Linked DNA regions of Homo sapiens: region 1 is linked to region 2. Evidence: fine-mapped expression QTL. A gene starts in region 2. The other region holds a variant in brackets. All regions are shown on one strand. Distances are between the middles of the regions.

The links. PIP is the estimated chance that this variant, and not a neighbour inherited with it, causes the effect. A credible set is the group of variants that fine-mapping cannot tell apart.
Region 1: its variant is the best candidate, but not a certain one, in a credible set for the expression of SLC31A2 in whole blood (TOPMed, PIP 0.89).

What each region holds. Positions count from the first base shown.
Region 1 is chr9:113,187,491-113,190,402 of GRCh38, forward strand. It overlaps FKBP15 (FKBP prolyl isomerase family member 15), which reads right to left. Exons shown (of 28, transcript NM_015258.2): 13 at 899-1,001; 14 at 303-409. Among named protein-coding and RNA genes, the nearest start is that of FKBP15, 32 kb to the right of the region's middle. RefSeq lists an enhancer at 45-1,244. The variant T/C (reference allele first, on the strand shown) is at 1,730.
Region 2 is chr9:113,149,261-113,152,172 of GRCh38, forward strand. It overlaps SLC31A2 (solute carrier family 31 member 2), which reads left to right and starts at 1,747. Exons shown (of 4, transcript NM_001860.3): 1 at 1,747-1,820. The coding sequence starts at 1,815.

The sequences.
Region 1 (2,912 bases), 38 kb after region 2:
CGCGAATATACACGCTTCAACTGGATATGTGTGAAAAGAAAAGGAAACAAACATTGATTGCATCTTTACTACGTTGTACTAGGGGCTCTACTTGTTCTTGCATTTAATCTTTATGACACTGGAACGTAGGTTATCCTTTGCCTGGTTTAGAGATGAGAAAGTGGTAACCAAGGAAGGGAAAAAAATTACAAACTCTGACTTTGGGGAACTGCTACTGTATGAAATGTACAGGAAGAAGAAAAGAGACTGACTAGAACCACAGCAAATTATAGGATATAATTAATACGGTTATAAAATGTTACCTGAAAGGATTGGGCATTTCCAGATACAGCTGAGTGGGAATCGAGAGATGACACTTGCATTAAGGCAGCAGAAGGTGCCTGGAGCCCAGTAACAGATGGCTGAGGTGCTAAGATAAAGGGAGACATTTTCACTGTTATCCACCCTTGCTTCTTGGTGTGAGTCTAGACTAGCACCTTACATACTATCATGCTTCAGACTCAACTATTTTCCTTGCCTAGTCTCCCTACACTCAGCTCTACTGCAATCTCAGGAATGAGCCAGTGGAAGGAAACTGGGTGCTCTCATGTGCTTCTGACTCAGCCCTAGGATCCCACCCGACAGGAAGTGCAGAACACACCCAGGGAGATGTCTCAATAGCTGAGTGCAGATTTCCAAAACTGACAGTGCAACACAGCAGAAGTCACAACCAGCAGCCAGGTCCATCTCTGGGTATGAAAATGCCTTACCCAGGGACAAACTGACAAGCGTCACACTCTTACATTTACACTTTAGTCCTCAGTACTGAAACAATGCAGCCTAACAGTTTAAGGAACAGTGACGATAATTTTCATGCTGACCCAGTTCAAGGCCACAGAGCCTCAGAGAGGTTCCTTACCCTGTGAGGTCATCTGTGGTAACGCTGGATGGGCCGGATGAAGAGAGGGCTGGACGGACGGAGTCACCACAGGCTGCCCACCTCCTTGCAGAGTGTTCACATCCTGAAACAGGAACAAGCGTTTGGGTTACTCTGTACGGGGTCCCTCATTGAAGACTGAGGCTGACTGTCTGCCCTAAACCTGCTTCCAACACAGGATTTCTAGGCAAAGAAGAGGAAGGAAAGGTAAGCGGAAGGCCAAGAGTTGAGGGTGTGGGTTGTGGAGAAAAAGCACTCTGCTATGCAATAAAGTAAGAGTCCTTCTCCCTATAATCATATTGAATAAGTAAATATAGTTAATTTCCACAAATATTCTCAGAGGTTGATGTTCTATTGTCTGAAGCAGCTAAACTAACCACTCTTCAGAATGTATCATTTTCCAAGCCAGTAACTGCCTTAAGACAAATCTAATCTATTCCCACAAAAAAAGTGGTCTTTTGCAAGAAATAATCCAGCCTCTTCGCTTCTTACAAATCATCCCCATAGTCCTCAAGGTACTCAATGAAAATCAGATAACGTAGGATTCACTGCACCTGATTAACATGCTGTTTTTGGATAATATAGTTTTAGGATGTTTTTCCAACATTCTTTATTTTCATAAAACCAAAGCTTTTCATAAAATCAAAGCTATAACTCTAAACAAAGTTATTCTACCTCCTGCTTCATATAAGAAACAGAAAATCTTGAGGCACAATATACAGTGACTGTAATCTGCTATGCTATAGTTCAAAGACCAAAGTTTCAGACATTCTTTTACTTTAGAACTTCACCTTGTCCCCTTATATTCTCTTC[T/C]AGAAAAACATCCCAGTTTTAGATTTCTACAGCTCTTAACCAACCTAAATGTCTAATAACAGAGTGAAAGGAATTATAATAAAATGATATAATGGAACACTGGGTTTCCTTTAAACCACTTTATTTACTTAAATCATTTATGTTAATGTAAATGTTTATGATACAACATTAGGTTTAAAAATCAGGTTACAAAGCAATATATAAAGATGAATGCCCTTTTTGTTCAATATGTTTCTTTTCTATAATTTTAAATTATTCTAAAATGAATAAGTAGCACATAAAATTTTTAATAAAAATATTCTTATTTACACTGCATTTCCAGACCAGAAAAAAATAATCCTATAACAATAGGCCTCAGAAATCCTATCTTCCTTTAAGATGTTAAATCTACATAGAGCTTTTCCAAGAAATAAAACAAAAATGTAAAATATAAAGTATATTCCAGAAAAAATTTTTTCAAGACCATCGCCCTTTCCTTGTTTTCTATCAAAGTAAAAGAATACTAAAAATCAGTCTAAGTTATATATTTCACTTCAATTGAGAAAGGACGATTATATTCAATAAAGAACTAACCACTAGAGAAGAATTAAGTTAAAATTAAGTTACTTTATAGCATACACCAAATTCCAAATGGATTAAAAATTTAGATCTAATTATAAAATATTGATCAATATCTTTAAAAATACATGTGATATTTATAATCTGAAAGTGGAGAGGCTTTCTAAGCATAATGTCAAAAGCAAATAACAAGGGGAGAAAATTGACAGACTTGAATTCAATAAAATTATTGAACTTCTAAATAGAAAACAAACACAAGAATACCACATACAAAGTCAAAAGACATACTAGTTGGAGCTTTAGTGATAGGCAACATCAGCGAGAAGACCAACATTTCCCAAAAGAATCTAAACATTCGCTCAATAAATATGAATTGAACACCTGCTATGGATTGGGCATCATGCTGCCCAGAGAGTGATCTTTAGTAACAACAGAGATTCTAGTAAAGAAGGCTAAATTAACTACTGAAAACTGCCCAGTTCTTGTAAAAGATCTACAAAATTGCTTCCATCTCTCAGGGAAGTACTAATCACAGTAGAAACACATGTACCAATACCAATCTGTATCATTTTGCATATTAGCTCTCTAAATAATGATTCTGCCTTAGAGAAAAAACAATCACTCC
Region 2 (2,912 bases):
AAGCTCTCTGCCTGGGGGACAGGGAAGGAGTGCCTCTGGTGGTACAGAAAGAAATTTTAGGACTCCCTGGCTAAGTGTTGTAACCAAAACATCCATGAGGAAGTTAGAAGTAAGTGTAAAGGTCATCAGATTGTGACAAAGCCAACAAAAACCGTCAAATGAATAAAGCTGTGTTGCAGATTCTTCAATGCAGGTGGGGGGAGTGGGGTGCACCAGAGCCCACTTATGTGAAGGTCAGATTATCTTACTCCTGCTTCCCATGTAAGGCCCAGAGAGGTGAAAAGCTACACCCAAAGCCCTCCCCAGCTCTTGGAACCCAGATGCTTCAGAGATACCCTTAGCCCTTCTCCCCAGTGCTTCCCCATGGCCCAGTAAACCATGACAGCAGCAGCTCTCCCTCTCCAGCCCCATCACAGTGCCACGGCCCATGTTCTCTCCCTGAAGCTGCTCCATTAGCTTTCAGACTGAGAATCTTAAAAGCTGTGTGGGCCGGGCAAGATGGCTCACGTCTGTAATCCCAGCATCCCAGCACTTTGGGAGGCCGAGGCGGGCAGATTACGAGGTCAGGATTTCAAGACCAGCCTGACCAATATGGTGAAACCCCGTCTCTACTAACAATACAAAAATTAACCAGGCATGGTGGTGCGCGCCTGTAGTCCCAGCTACTCGGGAGCCTGAGGCAGGAGAATTGCTTGAACACGGGAGATGGAGGTTGCAGTGAGCCAAGATCGCGCCACTGCACTACAGCCTGGGCGACAGAGCGAGACTCTGTTTCAAAGAAAAGAAAAAAAGCTGTGTGACCCTGAGGATTCTACCATTTACTGAACAAGCTCCCACTGCCAGGTTACATGATAATTTAACATGTATGTTTTCATTTAATCCCTATGACATAGATTTTATTATTATTTTCATTTTACTGACCAGAAAACTGAGGTTCAGAGATGTAAGCTATTTGCCTACGGTCCCAAAGCCAATAGTTGATGCGTATGGATGTGAACTGAGGTTAGCTCCAGGCTCAAGGTCTCTGCTAATACTGTCCTTAGTAAGGTTTCTCTGAAGAGCCTCTTTACTCATAGGCTGATTAGCAAAGGGTTCCTAAATATGCTTAAGAATCAATAACCATTAAAAATCCCTCACCCTACAAGAAACTCCCCATCAAAAAACTGGATCAGTGAAATGAACAGGCAATACACAGAAATGGAAGTACCCGTAAGAAAAATAGTTTACTACCCTAGTAATCAAAGAAAAACAAAATTACACGGGTGTATTCCTTTTGGCTTATCAGATTGGAAAATATTTTTCTAAAAAGAAAAATGTAATTATCTTGTAATGACTACACTAAAAATCTAGGGCATAATTGACTTAATTTACTCCAAATGTGTTGCTATTGCGTCCATAGCACGGACTTGCCCATTTCAACTCAATATATGTTACGCTTGGGGTAGTTTATTACAATGAGCAATAAACATTCTCATAATCGCCAAGACAAGCCAAGTGCAAAACAGGAAGGGCGAAGACAGAGGGCAGCAGGTGGTCCCTCTCGCTCGCGACTCCGGGAACGCCAAGCCTCAGCCCTTGGGAACCTGGGGCGAGGCGCCTGGGTCTCGGCCAGGGGGCGCGCCCGAGGACGCCGAAGTAGGGCGCGTGTGGGGACCACAACTCCCAGGCGCCCGCGCGCCGCCTCGCCCGGACCACGTGATCCGTGCGGCCAGGGTAGCTATCGCGGCGGCGGCGGCGGCGGCGGTTGAACTGACTCGGAGCGAGGAGACCCGAGCGAGCAGACGCGGCCCTGGCGCCCGCCCTGCGCACTCACCATGGCGGTAAGGGCCGGGCGCTACGGTGAAGAGGGTGGGCGGTTGGGGCGGGGTCTCCTGGAGCTGCCATCTCGGCACCCCGAATCCTCGCTGCCGCTGGCCCGGGGCTGGTGAAGGGTGTGTTGGCAGCATTGCCAACAGCTGGAACAGGGTTGGGGGACGCGGCAGGTATAGGTTGCGGTGGCTCTGTGGTTTTCCTCTTTATTTGTCCCTCCTGCTGGGAGGCAGTCCGGCTAGGCGAGCAGTTACCGAGCGCCCGCGGTGGCGCGGCTTGAGAGTGGGGGCGCGGTGGCTGAAGACAGCTGGGTCCGGGGCCCCCGGCCCCGGACCTCTGGCCGGCGCCCCAGGGCGGAGAGCAGCGCCTTGGGAGATTCCAGGAAGGCTTCCACGAAAGGGAAACCCCCGGCGCATTTCAGCCCGCAGCCCCGCGCGCACACCGAGCGCACATCCCCGGCCCTGCTCTTGTCAAGTTTGTAGCCTGATTCTTCGGGGAATAAAACAGAACCAGCTACTTTCCAGCTTCCCTACACTTTCAGTCAGAAAACAGCGTTTCAGACAAGCTGTTTTTCTTGGTAGGGTTCACCTGGGCTGGAGAGAACGACAGCTTGCAAGACTCGTTCGTCTTTGAAGAAGTCATATCATTTTCTTCATCCCATGAAGAATGTCATAGAATTTAAGATACAGGAAGCTCAGCCTGGGCAACATAGCTAGACCCCGTCTCTACAAAAATTAGCCACAAGTGGTGGCAGGCGCCTGTAATCCCAGCTACTCGGAGGCTGAGGCAGGATGAGGAGGATTGCTTGAGCCCAGAAGTTCCAGGCTGCAGTGAGCCATGACCTTCGGCCTGGGCAACAGAACAAGACGTCCTCAAACAAACAAAACAAAAAAAAAAAGATATAGGAAGTGTATGTAGGCCATTTAGTGAAATGATCAGCCGTCCTTTAAAAAGGGAAATAGATGGAAAGCACTTGCAAAAGTTCCCCAGCCAGTCAGCCTAGCAACTGGGACCTTCATCTCCTTCCCAACCCTTGTTTACAAATAAGGAAGCTTTTCTCAAAGTGTAAGTAACCCCAAATGAAGAAATATAGAAGAAAACAA